Linked DNA regions of Homo sapiens: regions 2, 3, 4 and 5 are each reported to be linked to region 1. The links are microRNA targets in miRTarBase. Many come from high-throughput screens and were not tested one by one. Region 1 holds a microRNA gene; each other region holds the end of a gene's coding sequence.

Region 1 (5,102 bases):
TCAATTACCTGATGGAGTGCGTATTTAACAGAAGGAAGGATCTCACCCTCCAGCCTCATCATTCCTGCTTAGTTACCCTCAGCCCCTATTTGGAGCTGAAGGAAAAGGCATGGATTTCAGTCCACATGTTCCTCTTTGGGGGACTTGCGGGGATTGATAAGGTAGGGCAGGTCTCCGGCTTGCCCCTTTAAAAACGCCGACCAGCAGCTTTTGCCAAGTCACTGGGTTCATTTCACTTTTTGCCCATCCCCCGCTCATCTAGACTCTGATTGGCCCCTGGGGAAGGAGCAGCCTGCTCATTGGTCTCCACCTTCGAATCTCTTCCCTAAGTAGGCCTGAGTCAGTGAAGAGCTTTGGAGGGCGGGACTGAATGGGGGTTAATCAGAGGATGCGATTGCTGACCCTTTGCACTTTGGCATGGCCCATCCCCTAATTTCTGACCAGAAGCCCTCCCTCTACCCTAAGGTGAGGACTGTGCTATGAATCTTTTGTTAGAAAGCTACCTCTTGGGAGGCTCTGGGGGCTCTTCTGGGACTGGGAAGAGACATCCAAGAAAAAAAGCCTCCTGTGGTTAGGAAGAGCCCCCAGGAGGAGTGGGCTGGGCGAGGCGAGCACCCTCCCTCCTCCAAAAACCCTGGAGAGCTCTCCAACGGCAGTCTCTGCTGCCCTGGGGGCTGACGCTCTGCCCACTCCTGCTCCTTGGTCCGCTCCACCTTTCCTTAAAGAGCTATAGCGTCCCGCAGAGGCCGGCGAGTCAGTTTGGGGAATGTCTAAAAGAAGCACTCACGACTCCAACAAGGAGGGGCTGTCGCCCTTTAAGGACTTCCCCGGGCTGGATTCCGAGCTCAGTTTAAAAATGCCAACTCACAGAGCGCGCTGGGTTCTGGGAACGACGGTGTCAGGCTGAGAACTACACGGACCAGCATGCATTGCAAACGCAGACGCCGTGGCTTTCGCCTGCTCTTTAGGACTCTCGTTTGACGTAGCGCTTTTCTAAGCGGGTCGCTGACGCGGAGGGCTGGGCCACACCTGTCCGTCTATTGGCCGGCTCCTCAGTGGGTGGGCGTGGCTTCGTGCAATTCCGCCCGGCAAAAGGGTGGCCTCCTTGCCAATCAGAGCCAGGGCGCCCGGAGAGGCGGGACCAGGGCGAGGCCCCGTCGGCCCCCGGGTGGGCGGGGCCACGTTGCCCAGCAGTGGGCGGTGATTGGCCCCGGGCCGTGCATTCGCAGCTCGTGCGTCACGACGCCGCCAGCTGATCGGAGCCTGGAGCCGGTGTGTGCTGGGTGCCGAGAAGAGACAGCGCCGCCGGCCGTGGGGAGCGGACGCAGTGATTTGCTCCCCCTCGTGCAGCAACCCCCACACCCAGCACCAGGTGGGTGTGAGCTGGCGACCCGGTCACGCAGCGGGGAGCCGCGGTAACGGGATGGAGGGTGAAAGTGGGGTCCGGGCGGCCACACCCAGCCCTTCCGGGAGGAGAAGGGGCGGCGGGGGCAGGGGCGCCTCGGGGAGAGGGGCCTGGACTGGCCGGGTTAGTGTGTCAGGAGCTACGAGGAAAGAGTCTGGGACGGGAGTCGTGGCGGAAGGGCTGGCGGAGTGGCGGGGGGCGGGGGGAGAGCCGAGGGGCCGGAGGGCCGGGGGCGGCTCACCCGGCGGCCCCCGGTCTGAGGATACAGGGGCCGGCCATCTAGCCTGGGGAGGGTCTGGACCCCCCGAGCGGGCGGCGAGGAGGTGCTTTGCCTCTGCCGGCGTTCACTGGGTCAGGGCCAGTTCAGCGCCCTGGCAGGGAAGGGGTCGCTGGGCGGGCCGGCCCCTCCTCTCGTTCTCTCCAGGGGATGTTATGTAAGGGGGGAGGGGAGAGGAGTAGGGGGCGGCGGTGCCGGGGCCTTATGCAACCCAAAGGTTAGGGTTTCACCGTGGTTGGGCGGGGGGAAGAGGGCAAGAGGAGGGCCTGGAAACTCTAACCCCCGCTCCCCAGACTAACTGGCCGTCTTGGGCCGAGAGAAGGTCACCTCTGCACCTCCCCCCAGCCTGTCCGATTGTGAGGCCCCTAGCCCAGGCCTGGCCCTGACTGCCTGGGAAGCCGGCTGGCTGGGTGGGGCGCCTGGGTTAGTCATCACTGGGCTGCCTCTCTCCCCACCTCTCGGCCAACTCTTGGCCCCTCCCCATGGCCTCCGGCGAGGCTGTCACCCCCACCTCCCTCCGGCCCTGGTTCCAGCCTCCAACTCCTTTGGCCTGTCATCCTGGCTGTCAGATTGGGCTAGGAGCTGTCAGAGTGCCAGAGGGTTGATGGAGCAGCTGGTCAGAGGGTCAGTGCCCTGGGCCCACCCCGCCCTGCAGCCAAGGGCACCTGCTTGGCACAGACTCTCAGCAGCTGCTGAGTCCTCTGGGTTGAACAGAGCTATCTCAGACAGAGGAAGGTCGGACGGAGTTGGACTGGTCACCCAGGGGAAGGAAGATACACAAAGTTCATGCCTCCCAAGAGGGTTTCGGAATTTGAACCGCACCCCGTATCCCCCAATCTTTCTTACCCTCTGAGTATAGAAATTCCAAGGCAAGACCGCCTTGGCCCCTCAGCCTGGCGTGGGCCATGCCCTTGGACTGAGTGTCAGCACGGACCCGCCCTCCCCAGCTCACATCCCCCGAGCCTGCCACGCCCCCAGCCCCCTCCCTGGGCCATGCTGCAGGGCCCGGCTTTTCCTGCTGATTCATGCGTTGGAACTGTGGGGGCGGGGCTTGGAACTTGGAACAAAGTTCAGACATGGAGGGGCCGGCAGACAGCCTGGAATTCATACCAGATGTACCCGGAATGCGCAAGCGGAATGCCTGGCATCTGAGAGTCCTGGGGAAGCTGCCCAGCCACCCTGCCCATACCTCCCTCCCCTCCAGCCTGTGGTCCCCTGCCCGCCCCTCACAGCCCCGGCCACCCTGCCGATACCTCCCTCCTCTCCAGCCTGTGGTCCCCTGTCCGCCCCTCACAGCCCCGGGGGCCTCTGCTGACCTTCTTTCAAACGCTAGGCCTCCTCCCTTCCTCACTCTTCCCCAATCCAGGCCCCCAGAACTCTCCTTCCAGCTGAACTCCCTGGGAACAAGTCAGTTGGGCTGATCACTGAACTCACATTTCTGGACCTGAGGTACCACACTTCTAGTACCTGCGTGCTGGTGGGGTGTGTCCAGGGTCCCGGGCCCCACCCTGTCTGAATGCTGAGGAGGCTGGGCCCCCAGGGGCCGCTAGGGCAGGGGAGGGTGAGAGCAGGACTGGGTTTCTCTAGACTCCAGTTCTGGAAAGAAGAGCAAGGGAAGTCTGTTTACAGCCACCTCTTGCTGCTCAGCGAGGTTAACAGCTTCCGCGGGCCCAGATCAGAGCTGCAGCCCTGCATTAGAATCTCAGAGGTCTACTGGGGCAGGACCCTGATGGCCAGCGAGTGGGTCAGCGTTGCAGCAACATGCCCTGCTCAGATCTTTCCCATTTTCCCTCCCTTTCCCTTAGGAGCCTGTTCCTCTCACGCCCTCACCTGGCTGAGCCGCAGTAGTTCTTCAGTGGCAAGCTTTATGTCCTGACCCAGCTAAAGCTGCCAGTTGAAGAACTGTTGCCCTCTGCCCCTGGCTTCGAGGAGGAGGAGGAGCTGCTTTCCCCATCATCTGGAAGGTGACAGAAATGGGCTGGGAAGGTCCGAACAGCAGGGTGGATGATACGTTTTGGGCAAGTTGGAGAGCCTTTGCCCAGATTGGCCCAGCAAGGAGCGGTTTTAGATTAGAGACACTGGCTGGATTGAGGAGTAGAAGGCTCAAACAACCCAAGGTTAGTTGGTCTTTGTGTGACAGTGGGAAGAAGTGGAGAGAACACTCTGTCTCCCCGACTTCCTTCTTGACCCTCCTTCCGTATCTTTCATTCTTCCCCACTGGCCTTTCCAGATGAGGTCCAAAAGTAAGCTCACTCTTCAGGGAAAAGTGATACTAAACCCAGGCGTGAGGAGTCATCCTTCTGCTCTTACTTTTCCCTGCATTTCCTTAGGCTGGCCCAGACTCTAGATTCCTGGGCACTTACCTGTATCTGAGACCCTTAGACCTCCTGTCTCAGTTTCTCCACCTGTGAGATGGGCAGTCACACAGATGAGTGTGCATGAGGGAATCAGAAGCCCATCTGGGTTGACTCAGAACCCGGGCTCTCCCCCTGCTGTGGGTGGAAACAAAACACCTTTTCACAGAAGCTGTTGTCCCTCCCCCATCCCTGATACCATCACCCAGAAGCTGGGTGGGGAATGGGAAGCTGGAGGAGGGGGTTAGAGTTAGACCAATGCGAGGAGCTAGTAAGAGCTCGCCTCTCCGTGACTTCCCCCCATGCAAGGGTGGCCCAAGGCTTCCCCTGATATCCAAAGCAGGACAGCAGCCCCTTGGTGGGATTCTAACTGCTGCTACTCTGTTTCTTTCCTCACTTTGCTTTCCAAGGTGGTATGTGATCCCCAGCTCAGGCCTGTGCAGACAGGAAATTCTCCCCTGCAGCAAGTAGGGGAGGTGGGTTGTGGGATGTGACCTCCTTCCAGATATCAGGCAGTGAGTGTAAACCTGCCACCTCCAGCCCTGATCCATTCTCACCTAGCGGCTACAGGAAGCTGTGTCTGTTCGATTTGGTGGGAGGAGATGTGCAGGGAGCTGTATCTTGTCCTCCGCTTGTGAAAAACTCAAGGATGTGGAGAAGAGTAGACCGTGGAACCCTGCTCTTCTGCAGCCAAGCTGAGGGGCAGGATGCGTGTGGGACAGTGGTAGAGAAGCAGGGGATAGACTCATAGGCTGCAACAAAGGTGACTCTGTCCCTGGACACTGCCTCCGTACTTTCTCCTTGCTTCACTGGCCACAGCATCTCCCTCCAGCCCTCGCTATGTGCCTCTGCCATCTTCACCCATCATGGAGCAGAGGTGAGGAGAGGCAGCCTGGGAATATGGAGACCAGTGAAGGACCAGGCCTGGAGAGCACAGGGTCCTACCTGGGCATCCAGCAGAGGAGCCCCTAAAGGCCAGGAGCACCCCAAGAGGAGGGAGGGCAGCCAGCCTCCATTGACGGCGAGCCTCCAGCCCTCTCCTACTTTGATCACCATTTCTCTCCAG
Region 2 (5,085 bases), not on the chromosome of region 1:
ATATTTTATATTTTATTTACCATTGTATTCCCAGCTCCTAATACTATGCCTGGCAATTGGGGCATGAGTAAATCTTTGTTGACTGAATAAAAAACAATAACTTGGCCTGGTACAGTGGCTCATGCCTGTAATCCCAGCACTTTGGGAGGCTGAGGCGGGTGGATCCTGAGGTCAGTAGTTCAAGACTAGCGTGACCAACATGGTGAAACCCCGTCTCTACTAAAAATTAAAAAATTAGCTGGGCGTGGTGGCACGCACCTGTAATCCCAGCTACTCAGGAGGCTGAGGCAGGAGAATCGCTTGAACCTGGGAGGCGGAGGTTGCAGTGAGTTGAGGTCGCACCACTGCACTCAGCCTGGGCGACCGAGTGAGACTCTGTCTCAAAATAAATAAACAAACAAACAAACAAATAAATAAATAAATAACTTTTCTGATTATCCTACCAGCGGAGGAGGATGGTATACAAAGGAAGTACATAGATGAGAGCCCTGGCTTCAAATCCTGACTCTGCCATCTGTTGGGTGATCTTGGACCAGTTGATTTACCTCTCTAAGCTTTAGTTTTCTCATAAGTAAAATAGGTATAACCATATTTACATAAGGTTGTGAAGATAAGAGGTATTTGCCAAATGGGCACCCACTAGGTCCTTAGTGAATTACAGACATTGCCATCATTACTGTTATCATTCAATTTGGACAGATGGGGTGGAAAGTCTTCTGGGGAGGCCACAGGCTCCTCAGGAAGAGTGACAGATTACTCACACCCAAAAGGAAACAGATAGTAACATTTTTTATTAAATATTACAGTGGATCAAAAAGTACAAAATATCTCTTGCCTGCTATGTGATTGGGAAACTATTGGCACGTAATACAGTATCAAAAGCAGTAATAAGTACAATTTGGAAAACATACAAAATTGAGTGTTTATAGTTGGCTCAGCATTCTTCTGGTAGTGTTTAAACTAATGCAAAGGTTACTCAATAACCTCTCCATTGGGAAACTATATAATATCACTGGGCCATGTTGCTATATACAAATAATCACCTTACAGAGCATAGAGGTTACATAGCTGGAATCACCAAAAGTATACAATATTTACAACACAGGAAAGTTTAAAAAAGTATAAACAGCCAAGAGATTATGCTGCTATTCTTCAGACATATTTCAACCATGAGGAGACAGGCAGAATATCAAATACACTAACAGCCAACACTGGACTTTAAGTGCTCAAGATAATCATTGCAATGGTATGGGTCTCACCAGGGCAAACTCATTCCCATTTCTCTTTAAAATTGGGACAAGAGTAAAACTAGACCAGATGCGACTTGGCTGACCACCACCAAATGTGACTTTGTGGGACGATAAGTGAAGAGAAATAAATGGTTCTCTTTGAAGGCACACTACATAAAATATTTTTGTGGGACCACCTCGAAATTTCCATCAGACACACCAACACAGTGAAATACAGTACTTGAGAATTCATGCACCAGGTCAGAAAGTTGTAAAGTTAACATCGAGTTTTAACAAACCCTTCTGTATATGCCCTGATAAACAAGTGAACTTAAGAGCTTCTAGCTAGTAAATAAATAAGTCAGTCCTGTGGCAAATATTACAAGTTTGAATCACTTACTAGAAGAATACTTAATTCCGAAACTCGGTTGGGCTGTTTTTATTTTTTTATCATGTGGAGTTGCCAAACATTAAACCAGAAGTTGCATGGAAGTTTTTTAAAAATATTATTTAGAATCTCCAAATCTCCAATAAATCACAGACTTAGTGCATTTTGAATTGCAACATTTCTTGGAAGCCACACTCAGTAAATAGATTTATGACTCCACTGCCAATTCGATTCCACAGTTTCCTTTACAGAACTACCAATAACAATGGTTTGATTGCACAAAGAAAGGCTTGTGCAATTCCATTCAATAATAAGGCCCCTTGAACTCAAACAATGCAAACAAAGCCTTATTTAAGACATTTTAAAACGTCGTTCTCAGCCAATGAAGAATTCAATGGTCTTTTTGAAAGATTTCCAAGATCTCTGTTCAGAGTTTTAAAACAAATAACACACTGCTTCTGTTGGGAATGCGTACCCCCATTTCTCTTTATTTGTCCTGATGTTTTGCCGAGGGTATGAGCTTCCTCAGACAGAAACAGTGAGTCTCCTCTCAGAAGAGATGAGAAAAACAAAAGCTGGACTATGTTAACATTGTTTGAAAATGGTGTGATCGAATTCCAACATGATGAAACCAGACTGAAATCATTGCAGTGGAAAAAACAAATGCCCCATATTCCAAATAGGTGAGCTCCACCGGGGACAGATGCCCCCCCTCCTTTTTTTTTTGAGACACGAACTCATAGAAACCACATATGACCTAGCCCATGTCTGCTGCAGAACCACCGAAGTTTCCTTTTTCTTCCATGTCCTCCGATTCTGTGACCATTCAATCTAGTGCAACTTTCTTATATGTGTCCTGGCTAGCATCTTGCCAGCTGGAATTGAGATTTTTCCCCCCTCTAGCTTGTGCAATAGCAGGATAATCTGCACTCACACATTTATAATCTAAATTCTACTAGTCTATCTATGGTTCTATTAAATATATATATATATATTATTCCACAGGAAGGTAAATAATTAATTGAAGCAAATGGAACTCTTAACACTGGATCTCTACATTCTTTTGTTTCCACCTTTGGATATTAAGTATGTTACATTGAATATTTGGCTTCATATCATGGAGACATTTCAATACAAATGCACGGCATGCATGGCTTTGTTTAAGAGCCGCAGTTTCATTGTTATCAGTTTTGATTATTTTGCAGTCGAGTTACCTATTTAGAAGTTGAAAATTGTCACCAATTTTCCCAGAATTAAGTATCTCAGAGGTAAAAGACTTAGTTAACTATGGTTCTAAAGTCTACTGGTAGTGTTGCGGGAGGGGCACAGTGGGTTGGGGAGTTCATCCAAGCGGTCTTCAGCAGGGATGGGACTTGGGGAGAAAATCCACTCTCTGTATCCATTGACTTTTAATTAATACAGTTAGAAAATGTGTCCACCTTAATGTTATATCTCGGTAGCAAATGGAATACAGTGGCAAGAATGACAACGGACATTCTCCACATCTTTTCACTGCCTGAGCAGCTTGACCATTTACTTCCCACAATAAAAGAAACCAGAAAGTGGACTGTATTGCCAGGTGGTTAAAAACATGACCCAAACCACCTTACATGTTTCTGTGTGTGTACACACAAAACTCACACCCCATAAAACCAAATAGGATGACTTTTCTTTTGAAAAGGCTAATCCAGTATGTCAGTTATCCCCAAAGATGTGGCCTGGGAGATTCTTCTTGGGAATGACAAGAAACCAACTGGATGAAAACAACATGACTACTTATCACTCAAAAGACCGAGGCTAGAGAAGCTATCAGGACTGCAGCTGCTCCTCTTCTGGCCAGTTGAGCTCCATCCTCTTCCCAACCCCCTTTCCCAGACCATTTAAAGGAATCAGTGCCAACGCCAATGTAAATCATTTTGGCTCCTGTTCTAATTTCTGAAATTCCTAAAATATCTGTGCAGCCCACAAATATGTCCTCTAGACTCTGTTGTTATTCGGCAGCTTGCTGCCAGTGAGGTTTTTGTTTTTATGATTCTCTGGTATGTAGGACAGTTTCACAGCCTAGATAAGGTAAGTACAATGCTCAATATTTTCACAGAACCCAATACTTCAAAGCAAAGCATTTGGCTGGGTAAGCAGTGTATAAGCTCTTTCAACTATGCCATTTATGAGGAACAAAATCCTTAAGTTGCGGATCTACAAAGGAACGTTCTTTGCACTATTGTGTGCTTGACTGTTTCTTTTTCATTTGTTCCACTAGAATCAGTTGCTTCAATTTGTAAACAATAACTTTACCACCCAAAGCTGCTCAAAATAAGATGTGGAAAAATTACAAACACACAACAACTAGGACAGTCAGTCAGCCTCAAAAACAAAACAAAAACAAAAAGACCTGCAAACAAAAGCAATACCATTTAATAAAAAAAAAAAAAAAAAAAAAAAAAAAGACGAGAAGGAACTGGGAGAAAATGGAACTACCTGTATATAAATTAGGTGAGCAAACAGTGATACAGGTAGTTTTAAGAAGCAAATATATACAGTCAATTTAACAGTGTTTACTTCTCTGGATTGTTTAATAGTGTCAAAATGAAAGATCTATTGAAGTTTCACTATACATTGCATTGATTGAACCTTGGAGAGTTTTATGAAAAAGAGGGGCATCCCTTGCCATCTGTTTGCCAGTCTTCCTTGCCCCTTCCTTTGAAATGCCTGCCTCTTTTTTGCCCAGATTGTTTCCTGACCATCCGAACTCAGATGGGGTCCTCTAAGTTCTTCCTGGATATTCACAAATCCCTTCACAAGGCCCACGTGCGAAGTGAATGATCTGGAGGTGCCTGGGCATCTGTGTTGGAAGGGAGTCAAGACTCACCAGCCAGTCAGTTTGTGGGCTAGAGTTGTCCCACAAAAATCAGGCATGTTCACCTCCCCTCTGGGCCCCTACAGCTGGGACTGATCATAGCCTCAGATTAGAAGAAATACTGACTTCTAACTCTATAAGCCAGCACTCCTGGGTAAGGAGTGAAGCTCTGTTGGCCATGCCGCTTTGGACTGCTGGGCAGAGCTGAGCCTACAGTTTTGTACTGGGGTGCACGGATGACAGCTGGGAAGATGGAAAGGCAGCTTGAGGATTTATAGCAGCTAAAGGGTAAATGCTGTTATGCAAAAGGTCCCCATATGAACTTCCTACAGGTGTAGCCGCAGCCAAGTGTCTGTACAGCTGCTGAGAATTTGTCGGTGATGTAAAAATTCCTCTTTGCATCACAAGCGAGTGGAAAGCCAGGGGCTGCATGAGTGGAGAAAGCACAGTCTGGTTTTTCAAGTACTGCAGAGAATGAGAATACCCAGCCGGGAGCCTGGAGTTGAGGCCCGAGTTACACAGGCTCCCGGAATACAGACCTGGGAAGATAGGGGAGGAGAGGGGAAGCTTGTGGCCTTCTGATCCGCCCCCGGAATGCCCACCGTGCGCTG
Region 3 (5,086 bases), not on the chromosome of region 1:
GTGGAGGTTGCAGTGAGCCAAGACTGCTCCTCTGCACTCCAGCCTGGGCAACAGAGTAAGACTGTCTCAAACAAAACAAAACAAAAAACAGTATCTTAACCTGTACATTATGTTTCTTTATCTAGATATAAACAACATCAGCCTACTGACATGGTCATGGAAAACCTGAAGAAATTACTCACATATTGTGAAGATGTTTACCTGTATTACAAGTTGGCATACGAACACAAGTTTTATGAAATTGTAAATGTGCTTCTGAAGGACCCTCAGACAGGTTGCTGTCTAAAGGACATGCTAGCAGGTTAGATGATTTCATAGGTGTCTGTTTTCTTGTACTGTTAGCAGATTCTGACAGATGTGATGAGAAGAAGAATGCATTGGAGATCTTTGCTAAAGTTGAACAATCCCGGTACTGTACCATATCAGTCCTTTGTGGGTAGTAGGTAGCAAGTAAGAAACTTTTCAGGAGGAAATTCCTATTTAAAATAGATTGATTTTAGATGATTGTTCATCCACACCATTTTATATAGATACTAGTATTAAGATCAAAAGCTTCCTCTTCCTCAGGACAGCTTCTACTTTAGATGATCCAATAATGATTAAAGAATACCTGTACCTGCAGATTCCAGTTTCAAAGAAATTTAATTATTATTTACACAGTTAAGGAACAGGTGATACATTTTCATTTGTTAGAAACTGATCTTTCTGTAATAAAATAGATTTTCAATTCAGTGTATGTCATTATTACTGCTAAGGAAATCTTAGCCCTTGTCTGCCTTAAAGGAATCTTTATTTAATTTACTGTAATTATTGCTGTGTAGTCACTACTTTTGTTAATTTCTCAAATCACTTAGATGATGGTCTTGTTTTCCACTTAGTAGGTATACAGAGCTTTGACGTTCCTATTATTTCCTATATAAGAGAAATTTAAAACATTTTTTGTTCTTTCTGTCTTAGGGGAATAAAAAAACACTAACCACACATTTGGTTAAACTGCTTAGGAGAAGACATAATAAAGATTCCCCAATCTATACTTAACAGCCATAAACCTGAGTTACAGGCTCAGTTACTCCAAATAAATAGTTCTTATAGGTACTTAATTAATTAGGCCTTGGTATCTAAATAACAAAATAATGTCCCCAAATAAATAAGAGGAAGGCAGCCCTATACCTTTGTTGCTCTATGGTGACAACATAAGGACCTGGCAAATCACTCATGTTTTAAAGCTGTAACTATGTCAAGCATTTATTAAGATTTAGTAGAGAACGTAGAGAACTGTACTCCCAAGAGCTGTGTTCTATACTCTCAAAAAGTATCTCTTGGGAGGTAACACAAAATTTAAGTCCTCACAACAGTGATTTTATTAAATTAGTTGCTTTATAAAACATTGCAGATGTCATAATTGTTAACATAACAATTTACCAAACTGTAGTTAACTGGTGCAGTTTGCTGAGCATGTTTTATAAAGGAAAGGAAAGGAAATGCCAAAACCCTGGTAAAGTTGTTCCATTGCAGCCTAAGAGAACAAAGATTTGTTTCTCAGACACTTAAATCAGGCAAATAAAAATAAGTTTCCCTCCCCCACCTGAAGCAGTTCATCAGTAGAAATAGCCTGATAAATAACTAGACAGTCTTTGCACTCGAGAGATTCCACAACATGTAATGCAATAATGGAAAGGTTTACCTTCTTTAGCTTCAAAGTTGGAGGGTTTTGGTCATTTTAATTTTATATCAAACTAGTGCTTTTCAGCCGCAGTATCTTCACTCTGAGATAAGCAGTCTTCTTCACAATGTATTTTTAATATCCTCATGTTCAATTTTAAGACAAAGCAATTTTAATACTAGGTGCACACCACATGCCCTTGCTGCAAACTGCTTTTCTTGACAAGTTATGAAGTAGTTCAAGGAGGTATGGTTAAGGCTGTATTACTGAATGGTGCTGGTAAATACTACACAATTTTTTTTGTCACGTTGCAACCTTTTGTTTCCAATTTAGTGACTGCTGCTATGAAATCAGATAGCAACAACGACAACATTATTAGGTTTTGAACTATGATTTAGTAGCAACTTAGGTTCCCAATTTTAACCCCTTGGCAGCAAGATCCAAGTTCCCTCATTTGCACATTAGCACCTAAGTGTCAAGGGGTTAAATAACCAGCACAAAAGATACTGCACTTCTGATTGTAGCATTTGGCAGAACTGAAAGGAAAGGAAGTTGTGCTACATGTTCAAGGGATTGTGGGCAACATAAAGATGACACCAAGAAAAGATAAAATGTCACATGAAGTCTTCATAGTCTTGTACATATCCTCCATCATAACCACCATAATCTGCCAGATCATCTTTCATGGTGGCTTTTAATCCCCCTCCAGGAACCACACCTTTCTTCTTCTTTTTGGCTTTGCTTTGCTAAAGATGAAAGAGAGTTAATTCATGAACCTTAGTGTGCTATGGGCATCTTATCTGGTACAGCAACCCTCATAAACAAACACACAAAAACCTTTGGTCCCAGAAACACTAGTTCTGTAAGGGACATCCGAGCCTACATGTTTTGGACCTGAACAGGTCTCCCAGAGTCAGTCTCTCCAAAACTTGATCTGGGTCCTTGGTCCTGCTCTGGATACCTAGCCCACCAGCAGGGGTTATAAGTTATTGGTAGACAGCCTTAACTTCACTGAAGCAAATTTAGAAAAGTGTGGATAAGTACCCCCCAATTTAAAATCACAAAGCTCTAACCTTTACTTGACATACTTCTCTTACTTTACTCTTATAAATACTCTGCAAAGTGAGTATTATTGTTCCTATTTTAGAAGGGAGAAGACTGAAGCTTAGAAAAGCTGATTTACCTATACCTATTAAGTAGCAGTGCTAGTATTTGAACCCAGTCTGTGATTTCAGCAATTTCTATTAACTCAGAAAAGGGGAACATGTCTGGAAACAAAAGGACAGTAATAGCACCCATACTCCTCTTCTAGTCTAACTTAAATGGTATTAGTGAGTTGCTTGACTTTTAATTAGGACAGGCTCCTATTATATTTGTTGACTGTTAGACCTATAACCCCACTCTAATTTAATACCCATTTCCCTACACAGCTTGCTCTTACCTTTTCTTGCTTCTGTTTTTCACTGCAAAGCACAGTCAGTGAATTGGTAATTTTTTTCAAGTCATCAATTTCCACTTAAAAAAAAAAGGGCATACCATTAAACTTGAATTTTTAAGCATTTTGAAAAGTTAAAGCTAAATATGTACATTCCATATATATCTATATATCCCAAAATGTACATTCCAAAAGTGTTATGAGAAATCCAATTTGTTCATTGTTAAACTTCAGTAACTTTGAAAGGACCATGAATTTCTCCTCTTTAAACGTAAGGTGGCCGGGCACAGTGGCACATGCCTGTAATCCCAGCATTTTGGGAGGCCTAGGTGGGTGGATCACTTAAGCCCAGGAATTCGAGACCAGCTTGGGCAACACAGCTAGACCCTGTCTCTTGAAAACAAAATTCATTTTATTTATAATGACGACCTGTAATCACCAACACACCATTGCTCAACCAAAGAGAAACTGTCTTTATAGCTCACAATGCTCCCTACTATCCTTCCTCAGTCTAAACAAATGGGGGAGGATAACATGCCCTTCCATTAACACACCCCCAGTAATCAGGGAGAACAGACAAATAAACATGAAATGACAATTACTATTATTTTTTTTTTTTTTTGAGATGGAGTCTCACTCTGTCACCCAGGTTGGAGTGCAGTGACGCGATCTCGGCTCACTGCAACCTGCGCCTCCCGGGTTCACACCATTTTCCTGCCTCAGCCTCCCGAGTAGCTGGGACTACAGGCGCCCGCCACCATGCCCAGCTAATTTTTTGTATTTTTAGTAGAGACGGGGTTTCACTGTGTTAGCCAGGATGCTCTTGATCTCCTGACGTGATCCGCCTGCCTCGGCCTCCCAAAGTGCTGGGGTTACAGGTGTGAGCCACCGCACCCGGCCTATTTTATTTTTTTTTTTGAGACAGAGTCTCGCTTTGTCACCAGGCTGGGGTACAGTGGCGTGATCTCGGCTCACCACAGCCTCCACCTCCCAGATTCAAGTGATTGTCCTGCCTCAGCCTCCCGAGTAGCTGGGATTACAGGTGCGTGCCACCATGCCCAGCTGATTTTTGTGTTTTTTTTTTTTTTTTTTAATAGAGATGAGGTTTTACCATGTTGGCAAGGTTAGTCTCAAACTCCTGACCTCAGGTGATCTACCAGCCTCAGCCTCCCAAAGTGCTGGGATTACAGGCATGAGCCACCACGCCCGGCCAGAATGACAATTCTTAAACCTACAATGACAACACCCTATCCCATGATGTCTCCATTTTCTTGCACGGGAACTACAATGAGAACAGTGACCATCTCTATGTCCTACCAAGAAATAGTCCTGTTCAGTGGACAGCATTATCAGCCTTATAAAAATATGAAGCTGGAAAGAGACACCAGTTTTTAGCTACCAGAAAGTGTTCAGTTTTGGTTAGAGAACACCTCCAAAAACCAGAAAAAAATTAGTACATGCAGAATAAAATATCAACTCTGGGCACATTACCAATCAAATGTAGAACCCTCAGCTTAGTGATAATTTATCAAAGAAAACCCAATTCATTGTGTAGGATTCCTTTTTCTCCATCTTAAAAACTGCAAATAGGCTGGGCGTGGTGGCTCACACCTATAATCCCAGTACTTTGGGAGGCCAAGGCAGGGAGATCACCTGAGATCAGGAGTTCCAGAGCAGCCTGGCCAACATGGTGAAACCCCGTCTCTACTAAAAATACAAAAAATTAGCCGGGCGTGGTGGCAGGCGCCTGTAATCCCAGCTACTCAGGAGTCTGAGCAGGAGAATTGCTTTTTTTTTTTTGAGACGGAGTCTCACTTGGTCACCCAGGCTGGAGTGCGGTGGCACGATCTCAGCTCACTGCAAGCTTTGCCTCCCAGGTTCATGCCATTCTCCTGCCTCAGCTTCACCTTGTTAGCCAGGATGGTCTACAATCTCCTGACCTCGTGATCCGCCTGTTTTGGCCTCCCAAAGTGCTGGGATTACAGGCA
Region 4 (5,102 bases), not on the chromosome of region 1:
GCCCGAGAACCTGGGTACCAGAGCTCCCAGCATGACTGTTCATGTGTGGGACTTGGACCCGGTGACCCATGGGCTGGGTTCACCCGCCTGGTTTCCACTGAGAGGGCCCCGTGGGGCCGGGGTCTGTCTGTAGCCTGACTCGGGTGCTTGGTGCTGGAGTCTGGAAGCATGCAGGGCTTGTTGAGCTGCACGGGGTGCATCTGCCATGACACTGTGTGGAAATTGTATAGCAACAAGTTTTTTAAAAGTGCCTGCCGGCCTGGTGCAGCAACTCATGCCTGTAATCCCAGCACGTTGGGAGGCCAAGGCGGGCAGATCACGTGAGGTCAGGAGTTCAATACCAGCCTGGCAACATAGTGAAACCCCATCTCTACTAAAAATACAAAAATGAGCCGGGCGTGGTGGCAGATGTCTGTAACCCCAGCTACTCGAGAGGCTGAGGCAGGAGAATCGCTTGAACCCGGGTGGCAGAGGTTGCAGTGCCAGCCTGGGTGACAGAACGAGACTCCGTCTCAAAAAAAAAAAAAAAAAAAAAGTGTCTGCCTCTCAGTGCACCAGCTGAGTCCAGCCAGCAGGACAGAAGCCACTGGGACATCACACTGAAGGTTCAACAAGGGAAATGGCAGGATGAGGGGGAGGTGGGCATGTCCCCCCAGACATCCCGGTTCAGCCCCAGAACCGCGGATGTGATCCCACGTGCCAGAGTGGACTCGGTGGCCACCATCACACTTGGATCTTGGATGGGAGATGATGCTGGGTAATCGTCTGGGACTGATGTAACCACAGAGGGTCGGGGTGAGAATCAGGGATATGACCACGGAGGCAAAGGTTAGGGTGAGGCGAAGAAGGCCACAAGCCCGGGAATGCAAGGAGCACAGCTCTCGAGGTGGAGAGCACGAGGAACGGAGCACCTGGAGCCCCTGGAGGGCAGGGCCTGCCCACACCCCAGTGGCCGCGCAGGGAGGTCTGGTCTGGACTCCTGGCCTCCAGAACCATCAGAGAACAAATATGCTGCTTGAAGCATGAAAGCTGTGGGGATGGTGGCCGTGGCTGGGGGACACTCAGGCGGTGGCTTTTCTGGGACCAGTGTCTCTGCAGAGGCTGCTGCTCTGAAAGCATGGTGGGCCACAGGGCGCCACACCCCCTTGGGTCCTGTGCCTGCTTCAGGAAAGGGGTAAGCAGTGTGGTATACGCCAAGACCTCCTCCTGGTTTCCCTCCTCCGCATGGATCACTCCTCGAACACAGCCCCTGCTTCGTCAGGGTTCCGTAGCCTCACCTATCGCAGGCTGCACCCCATCCTTCCTCCAGACCCCTGGCCTGTGGGGCTTACCGGGGCCGAGGCCAACAGACTGATCTCGTTGCCAAAGACCCAACAGCCACCAAACTGGCTTCAACAGGGCTATGTGTGGCAGGTACTTCACAGGGGGACGTGTTCTCATTTTCCTTGGCTTTCTAATAAACTCTGGTCTAAAGAAAATCTCTTCTATAAAATGAGTGGCCAGTGCCAAGGGGTAGAGACAGAAGCTCCTTCTGGACACTGGCTGCTCCAGTAGAGCCCATCCTGCCCAGGTACGGAGCCCACCAGCTGCGATCAGGACACTGCAGTTCCACCGTGGGGGACCCCGGGCCCTCACCTTGTCAGTCCTCTGTTTCAGCTTCGAGGGCTTTGACACAGTCTAAAATCCACAGGTACTTAGCGCATTTCTAAGTCCCACCTCATGATCAATCATAAGACAGGGCTTTGATGGTATGCAGAAATATCAATGAAATCCAAGAGGAAAACAGAACTAAACTCATCGGGATGAATGACAGATAAACCCTTTAAGCATGTTTCAAGTCGCCCAGGTGGAGCCTCTGTTGGTCAGTGAAGCTTCAGGGTTCCCATGAGATGGATCTGCATGAGGCTCAGTCCTCTCTTGAAACACTGCCCATTTGCAGGAGCGCCGGCCCACAGGGCAGAAGTCAGACTGTCAGAGCAAGTGCCGGTCCTGAAGCTGGAAGGACTTTCAAGGCTCATTCCCCAAACTCATTTTTTTTTAAACCTCTGCTCATCTTAAAGAAAGGAGAGGCAGGCGCCCCAGAAACCTCTCAGGAGTAACTGACACACGTGACTTGCGGTGTCTTCAAAGGAACACTCTGCAACTTGCTACTGTTTAAACAGAGCAAGACTAACAGTCACCAGCAGCTGGTTCACGCATTAAGGCCCTTTGCAGGTGAAAGAAAACGGCACTGGAGGGCCGACTGCAGAAGCAGACGCAGTGCACGGTGGACATCTGCCCCTTTTGGGGGCCTGCCACGGTGCTTCCTGAAAACTCAGGTTAAGCTGACTCTGCTGTCAGGCTGATGAGGCGCCTGCACCCACCTTTGCTCAGCACGCCAGCCCAAATGGAAGAGCAGGTGCTATGACAAAAATCAGTTCTTGTAGCAACTATTTTTGATACTGAAACTGAAAAGCGAGAGCAGCAAAGCTATCCACGGAGCTCCTGACAGTTAGGCCCGGCTTTGGCTGCTGATGCAGGGGCCGAATGACGCTATTTCTGCAGCAGCCGGCCGCAGGCGCTGACCCACCGCGGGATGTGCCCCAGGAGGCAGAAGAAACGCTGGGAACCGCACCTAACCTTGCCAGCATCCCCCAGGCAAAGCCAGGCACTTTGAGTTCATCGGTGGAGTTGGGCGATACTCCTTTCCCGTTTGTGTGCTTAGCTGCTGCCAACAGGATGTGCTGGGTGAAGCCTTACAGAACACAGCCAGTTGTGTTTTATAAAGCAAGGCTCCCCTCCCCCAAAGACAAATAAAACCACAGGTGTGGAAGGGACACCCTCCACCGCACCCCGCCCTAGTAATCTGACACCGCAGGCAAAGGCACGGCCTGTGTGGGTAAGATCCATTGTAAACGTTTAAAACTTCCTGTTCCCTGATGCCTCAACTTCCCCGCAGACCGACGCACCTGTGATGGGCAGGGCCGTGTGACCTCGTGACCTTCACATACACCAATGAAGACCCTCACGCCTTCTGCTGTCTTTCCCCCACTGCTGACTTGCCTGCGGGCCCCCACTATCTGCCCTGCCTCTGGAGCCGCCTCCCGTGTGCCCCCCCAGGCCCCTTAAGGTGCTGTGCGTCCCATCTGGAACCGGCAGTTCACCCGCTCTCCCAGCCACCCTTCCAGACCCCACTTACAACACACGACTAAGTAACACAGTACAGGCCGTGTATTCGTATTTGTTTTCCTGTGCCAACTCATCTGGTATCTTCGTATTTTAATGAATAAAACTGAAAGATGACAACTTGAAGCCCCAGTGCATTCCTCTCAAATCGAGTGAAGTTTACAACACCTTAATTATAAAAGATTTATCTGATCCAGAAGAAAGCAGAGTGTACAGAAACTTCACTGTCATCTGCGAATGGACTGAGAGCATCTGGATTTGGTTCTCAGCCTGAATGAGCATCCTGGAATGGTGTGTCTCGTCCATTTACGTGGAGACACATGGAACAGGCCTGCAGGCTTGGGGCTCTGAGCAGGGCTCCCAAAGCCCCTCAGCTGCAAGGAAGCCAGGCCCATGAGAGGGGAGCCTGTTCCAGAAACACAAGAGGATGAAAGCTGTTATTGGCAAAGGAGACTTAGAGCAAGGAAATGACCAGGAATAAAAAAAGATTATATATTTAGAGGCCAGGTGTGGTGGCTCATGCCTGTACTCCCAGCACTTCAAAAGGCCAAGGCGGGTGATCACTTGAGATCAGGAGTTCGAGACCAGCCTGGACAACATGGCAAAACCACATCTCTACTAAAAATATTAATACAAAAAAGCTGGATGTGGTGGTGCACACTTGTAGTCGCAGCTACTCAGGAGGCTGAGGCAAGAAGATTGTGTGAACATGGGAGGTGGAGGCTGCTGTGAGCTGAGAACAACAAACCCCACAAAAACTAACTTCAACAAACATTAAACTTCACTACACACCGAGTCCAGCAGTTCTCCACCCATCTTTCTATTCCATTTCTCTCTCTCTGCCTCAACCTAGGGCAAGATAAGCTTGACCTGATGGGTCATGGCTCTGTACAATAGTTTAGTCTTAAACAACTAAGATGCTACGTATCTAAGAACACTCATGACTCAAAGGCTTGCAAAGGGCTCTTTAAATTTGCTCTTTTAATGCATAAATAAATCCATATCATGTATTACTTTCTGGAAAAGGGTTAAACTCAAATATCCGAAATACTTTCATTATACCAGGTCAAGAAAAATGCCACAGCCAGAAAAATTTATTTTAAAATAGAAACATACATTAAGCTTTAAAACAACCAACTCTCAAACAAAAGAGGAAAGAGCCTTTGATCCCAGAGTCCATGCGGAATGAATTCCATACGTGTTTGAAATTCACATAAGGAGCACTTAGAAAACCACCTGAAATGGAAATCCAACAGCCCCCTTGCCTGTGAGGGCTCCCACCCCTGCCCGCGTGAGGACATGGCCGAACCCCGGACACTCGTGTGCCGGGAGCCACCACAGCTCAAGGTGACCGGCAGCACCCAGCTCTGTGACCAAGACAGATGTTCACACGTGGGGGCATCGTAAGCGCTACCAGCTCCAAATCTGACGTGATGGGAACTTGGGAGATGTCTGAGAAATGTCCGAAGGGATTTTGGCAACACAGAAAACGCAATGTCTAGGAATTCCTCCAAATGCTTCCAAAAATACTCATTGACAATTCAAGTTGCACTTGGCTGGCGGCAGCCCGGGCGGCCTTCAGTCCGTGTGGGGCGCCCGCGTGGCCTTCTCCTCGTAGGACTCCCCAAACTCGTTCACTCTGCGTTTATCCACAGGATAAAGCCTGCAATGACACAAATGAGCACATCAGCAAACCCCACTGCAGGGGCTATTTTTCTAAGAGGAGGACTTGGCATCCTCGATTTATTTTCCAGTGAGCTGCCACAGTGAGCAAATTAACTAAAAAGTCGAATCCTCAGAAGTTTTACTGCCGAGGGCTGAGGAGGGATTTCTGAGTTGTGTTTTGTTCTGCATGGCCAGGCCAGCGTGCTGCTCTCAAGGAAAGGGAAGCTTGGCCGAAGGGACGACCCGGAGGCTGCACGGGCTGCCATGGCTGA
Region 5 (5,102 bases), not on the chromosome of region 1:
AGCTCTGTGATCCCTCAAAAATCAATAGCCACATTTCCCAATATTCTCACCTCATCCTTTCAAAGCCCATAGGACATACATTTATTTGGGCATTTAAACAAATTTTAATTGAGACAGGGTTGGAAAAAAATTACCTAATGGTTAACATCTCCAATGGCTGCAAACCAGCTCACCAAACGATGCAGAAGAGCACACGTTTGCCTCGTACCTGAGAACCATCACTAGTTTGTAAGAAAGGCAGCAACTTTAATCACAGGTGGTGAGCGATAAAAGGTAGCTTCCATATGCAGGTGGCACTACTTCCGCAGGAGCACCGTGGGCTCCTGGAGAGGCTTGCTTGGGTCCAAGCACATATTGCTGGCAACCTACGTGCTTCCAGGTAGCAGCTGAGGCCCTGTGGGCCTCTGCAAGGAGCGAGGGTTCTGGGGTCAGATGGACCAGGTTCACTTCCCAGCATTGCCACTTGAATGTGAACTTGGACAAATTCCTAAGCCTTCCTGCGTCTGTATCCTTGCCTGTGCAATGTGAAAAATACCTTTTCACAGCATTCCTGAAAAGCACAAATAGTGTGAGAAGTGCATGCTCATCTTTTGTTGCTTCCTTTGCATGAAATTAAGGACTGGATCATTGCACCCAAGGGCTATGCTGCCAATTACTGTGATGGAGAATGCTCCTTCCCACTCAACGCACACATGAATGCAACCAACCACGCGATTGTGCAGACCTTGGTGAGCTCTCGGAGACTTTGTTTTGTAAGTGGGAGTAAGCCAAGACCAGGTGTCATTTCTAAGGTACCTTCTCCCCTTCTGTTTTGGAACAGGTTCACCTTATGAACCCCGAGTATGTCCCCAAACCGTGCTGTGCGCCAACTAAGCTAAATGCCATCTCGGTTCTTTACTTTGATGACAACTCCAATGTCATTCTGAAAAAATACAGGAATATGGTTGTAAGAGCTTGTGGATGCCACTAACTCGAAACCAGATGCTGGGGACACACATTCTGCCTTGGATTCCTAGATTACATCTGCCTTAAAAAAACACGGAAGCACAGTTGGAGGTGGGACGATGAGACTTTGAAACTATCTCATGCCAGTGCCTTATTACCCAGGAAGATTTTAAAGGACCTCATTAATAATTTGCTCACTTGGTAAATGACGTGAGTAGTTGTTGGTCTGTAGCAAGCTGAGTTTGGATGTCTGTAGCATAAGGTCTGGTAACTGCAGAAACATAACCGTGAAGCTCTTCCTACCCTCCTCCCCCAAAAACCCACCAAAATTAGTTTTAGCTGTAGATCAAGCTATTTGGGGTGTTTGTTAGTAAATAGGGAAAATAATCTCAAAGGAGTTAAATGTATTCTTGGCTAAAGGATCAGCTGGTTCAGTACTGTCTATCAAAGGTAGATTTTACAGAGAACAGAAATCGGGGAAGTGGGGGGAACGCCTCTGTTCAGTTCATTCCCAGAAGTCCACAGGACGCACAGCCCAGGCCACAGCCAGGGCTCCACGGGGCGCCCTTGTCTCAGTCATTGCTGTTGTATGTTCGTGCTGGAGTTTTGTTGGTGTGAAAATACACTTATTTCAGCCAAAACATACCATTTCTACACCTCAATCCTCCATTTGCTGTACTCTTTGCTAGTACCAAAAGTAGACTGATTACACTGAGGTGAGGCTACAAGGGGTGTGTAACCGTGTAACACGTGAAGGCAATGCTCACCTCTTCTTTACCAGAACGGTTCTTTGACCAGCACATTAACTTCTGGACTGCCGGCTCTAGTACCTTTTCAGTAAAGTGGTTCTCTGCCTTTTTACTATACAGCATACCACGCCACAGGGTTAGAACCAACGAAGAAAATAAAATGAGGGTGCCCAGCTTATAAGAATGGTGTTAGGGGGATGAGCATGCTGTTTATGAACGGAAATCATGATTTCCCTTGTAGAAAGTGAGGCTCAGATTAAATTTTAGAATATTTTCTAAATGTCTTTTTCACAATCATGTACTGGGAAGGCAATTTCATACTAAACTGATTAAATAATACATTTATAATCTACAACTGTTTGCACTTACAGCTTTTTTTGTAAATATAAACTATAATTTATTGTCTATTTTATATCTGTTTTGCTGTAACATTGAAGGAAAGACCAGACTTTTAAAAAAAAAGAGTTTATTTAGAAAGTATCATAGTGTAAACAAACAAATTGTACCACTTTGATTTTCTTGGAATACAAGACTCGTGATGCAAAGCTGAAGTTGTGTGTACAAGACTCTTGACAGTTGTGCTTCTCTAGGAGGTTGGGTTTTTTTAAAAAAAGAATTATCTGTGAACCATACGTGATTAATAAAGATTTCCTTTAAGGCAGAGGCTGGTCGAGATGCTGCTGTTATCTTCTGCCTCAGACAGACAGTATAAGTGGTCTTGTTTCTAAGATTCCTACCACCAGTTACTTTGGGCCAAGTATCCACATCCCCTTGCGTATGGGAGGTGGGTGAAGAGTGTTGGATGCAAAGTGGTTATTATGGGAAGTAGCTCGATGGTAAAAGGACAAACACCTATCTATCTTAGAGCTTAAGCCTGTATGTGCTTATTCCCAAGGGAGATAGAGGTGTTTAATCACAAGGACAGCATGAGTTAGAGGACACTGGCATCAACAGCTGCCACAGCCGTGCACACCAGGGCCAGAGCAGCCCACTGACATCTGTCTTTGGTCTTGAGATCAAATGCATCCCATTCTTCATACATTAGAAGGTCGACCTCCTTGAAGCAGACCAAGTATAGCAAGCCTCTAAAAGGACTACTGAGAAACAGAATCAGAAACTCTAGAACTCTAGTTAGGGCCCTTCAGCAGGGCTGCAGAGCCTCCCTGGATACCCAGGCCTGGGAAAGCCTGTCTGGTCTTGTCACCCCAGGTGACAAATACAACTGGAATCTTTCAATGAGTTAATGAGATACTGAGAATGAGCCTCGTGGAATTTTCCATGCCTACCCTTTCTAAGGAAGACATCCAACAGTTCATGTGGGCTCTGGCTTCGTGTTAACATGAGGAACTAAAGACATGTTTCACCCCGTGAGAAACAGAAGGATCCCCTGAACAGTAACTGATTTGACAAGTATCGACACATAAAGTTATGGCATCAGCATTCTCTTACTCAGGCACGGTCAGAAGTAACGCTGCTTTCATCACGGCTAACCTCTCACACTGAGAGAAGTATTCACAGCAACAGAAGCTCCAGCAGCGGCCGTGAAGGTATCTTCCAGAGGTGTGGGTTTTTGCATTTCAATCTGCTCCATGCTACGGACCAACACAGTATTGAGTCAACTGTGACCTTAAGATCAGAGGAACGTCAATACTGCCACAAGGCCACCTTTCCAGAACTCGTGGGCAGGTAAACTATGCTTTGGATGTGCTTTCTTTCACCAAAATCACTCAACTCAGGAGCCACAAATAGTCCAGCAATTTCATTTCCCTCAACGCTATTTTAGTCTCAAAGGAAACCATGTAAATTTCATCAAGAGAAGGTCAAAGGGGATATATCGCCACTGAAAATGTTTACACAGTGACCATGAGTTACACATTTACTTAGAGAAACTTAACTTAATAAAGAATCTGTAGAGTGTGTTGGCTTGGAAAACACACACACAAAGAAGATACCTCACGCTTAGTATGTTCTGCTTTCTGAACAGCCACCACTGGGAACCCAGTGGCCTCTGTGGGACTGAACTCCTAAACGCAGGGTGCGGGAGCTGGGCAGGAGAGGTGACCTCCAACTGTGTTCCTAAAGTTCGTCTTTCGCTTGGCTCAGGACAAAGCGGTGTAACGAGTCAAGGTCTCTGCCTCCACTGTGCTCACTGACTTTCTTCCCTCCTCGGAAAAGCAATAACGTGGGGTAGCCTCGTACCTTAAAACAAAAAAGAAAAAAGTTTGCAAACCAGCGGTCCAGATCACATGCAAATTGCTTCCTAAATAAAACCAGATACACTCCTACCGTTGTGGCTGGAAAAATTCTGTGGCTAATTTTTAAAGGTGTATATTCCATTAAAACAGGAGCAGACTACTGTTTAGAAAGCACAGCCGTGGGGCTGTGTGTTCACTTCTGAATTCAAAATGACATCATTAAAGATCAGCCTCAAAGGAACGACTTTACCCTAAAGCAGACGCTTTCAGTCTTTACTGTGCACACGATCACCTGCGGATCTGCTGAAGGTGCAGATTTGGATTGAGCAGGCCTGGGAGTCTGCATTTCCAATGACCTCCCTGGCGATGCCCTGGTGGTCTGCAGACCAGACCATGAGAGCAAGATCCTCTTGAGGATACATGTTTCAGTGGCAACTCGTTTCTAAGAATTTTAGGGCACAAAAAACAACTGGTATCTTTTAATGATAAGGAAACTATGTCTGGGTTACGTCTATTCTCCATCTAAAGGGCTCCAAAAGTGTCTGAATAACAAAGAAGAAAAAAAATGACAAATCTTCCAGGCCATCAGACTGTGCTAACAGCTTGGAATGAAGGCAGTAGTTAACCCAAGCACAGGACCGACTTGCTGGCATGGCCCTTTCAGAAAGGAGGTTATGTTGAAATGATTCTTAGATTCAGCCACTGCATTTTATAATGCTGGCTTATGTGTGAAAAATGAGCGACTCGGGTATTTATGGCAAAGGCTACAGACCACTGGTCAATCATCAAGAGTCGCGGTGTGGGAAGCCCCACAGTCTATGGCGTGGGGTCTGTTACTTCACGGCCTTGTTACTCAGACAGCAAGGCCTGAAAACCTGCACTGAAACATGGATACTAACTACAAAGCGGGCGAAGAAGAATGCCTTCCCTTTGAGAGAGGATCTCTTTTGCTTCTCCAAACAAACAACTCAAAGGGACATAAAAACCACATTGTTGAGAAGATGAGAGCAGAGTGAGTTATCGTGGTTGAGGCACAGTTCCCTTGGGATCTGCCCCCATACTGAGAGCTCCCATAAGCATCCATCCAAGTACCCACCGAATACTTGCTGCAGATATTCCGTTCAGCAGTGCAGTCTACTTCGGCGATCTTGACCCCCGCCAGACCAGGGAATTCCTTTTTAGAGAGTTCCTCCCAAGTAGGAGCCAGAGTCTT

The links. Region 1 holds the annotated microRNA hsa-miR-22-3p (AAGCUGCCAGUUGAAGAACUGU, at 3,567-3,588, shown strand). A microRNA usually pairs through its seed, bases 2 to 8, with sites in the 3' UTR of a target mRNA and lowers its output. Matches are read on the target gene's strand: a 7mer-m8 pairs with bases 2 to 8, a 7mer-A1 pairs with bases 2 to 7 and ends in A, and an 8mer does both.
Region 2: miRTarBase lists ARID5B as a target of hsa-miR-22-3p. The part of its 3' UTR that is shown has no 7-base or 8-base seed match.
Region 3: miRTarBase lists SPG11 as a target of hsa-miR-22-3p. The part of its 3' UTR that is shown has no 7-base or 8-base seed match.
Region 4: miRTarBase lists CLPTM1L as a target of hsa-miR-22-3p. The part of its 3' UTR that is shown has no 7-base or 8-base seed match.
Region 5: miRTarBase lists BMP6 as a target of hsa-miR-22-3p. The part of its 3' UTR that is shown has no 7-base or 8-base seed match.

Annotation. Positions count from the first base shown.
Region 1 is chr17:1,712,400-1,717,501 of GRCh38, reverse strand. It overlaps MIR22 (microRNA 22), which reads left to right and starts at 3,515; the gene lies at 3,515-3,599. It overlaps MIR22HG (MIR22 host gene), which reads left to right and starts at 1,292. Exons shown (of 3, transcript NR_028505.2): 1 at 1,292-1,372; 2 at 3,488-3,799. It also overlaps a transcript of WDR81 not described here. RefSeq lists an enhancer at 504-1,145.
Region 2 is chr10:62,092,630-62,097,714 of GRCh38, reverse strand. It overlaps ARID5B (AT-rich interaction domain 5B), which reads right to left. Exons shown (of 10, transcript NM_032199.3): 10 at 771-5,085. The coding sequence ends at 4,685. Among named protein-coding and RNA genes, the nearest start is that of LINC02621, 160 kb to the left of the region's middle.
Region 3 is chr15:44,558,341-44,563,426 of GRCh38, reverse strand. It overlaps SPG11 (SPG11 vesicle trafficking associated, spatacsin), which reads left to right. Exons shown (of 40, transcript NM_025137.4): 40 at 126-731. The coding sequence ends at 306. EIF3J (eukaryotic translation initiation factor 3 subunit J) reads right to left here. Exons shown (of 8, transcript NM_003758.4): 7 at 3,105-3,178; 8 at 624-2,409. The coding sequence ends at 2,278. Among named protein-coding and RNA genes, the nearest start is that of EIF3J, 24 kb to the right of the region's middle.
Region 4 is chr5:1,313,626-1,318,727 of GRCh38, forward strand. CLPTM1L (CLPTM1 like) reads right to left here. Exons shown (of 17, transcript NM_030782.5): 17 at 4,127-4,828. The coding sequence ends at 4,744. Among named protein-coding and RNA genes, the nearest start is that of MIR4457, 6.8 kb to the left of the region's middle. RefSeq lists enhancers at 2,291-2,680, 2,971-3,120.
Region 5 is chr6:7,879,374-7,884,475 of GRCh38, forward strand. BMP6 (bone morphogenetic protein 6) reads left to right here. Exons shown (of 7, transcript NM_001718.6): 6 at 618-728; 7 at 821-2,355. The coding sequence ends at 970. TXNDC5 (thioredoxin domain containing 5) reads right to left here. Exons shown (of 10, transcript NM_030810.5): 9 at 4,986-5,102; 10 at 2,144-3,893. The coding sequence ends at 3,771. BLOC1S5-TXNDC5 (BLOC1S5-TXNDC5 readthrough (NMD candidate)) reads right to left here. Exons shown (of 13, transcript NR_037616.1): 12 at 4,986-5,102; 13 at 1,877-3,893. Among named protein-coding and RNA genes, the nearest start is that of TXNDC5, 29 kb to the right of the region's middle. RefSeq lists an enhancer at 2,693-3,892.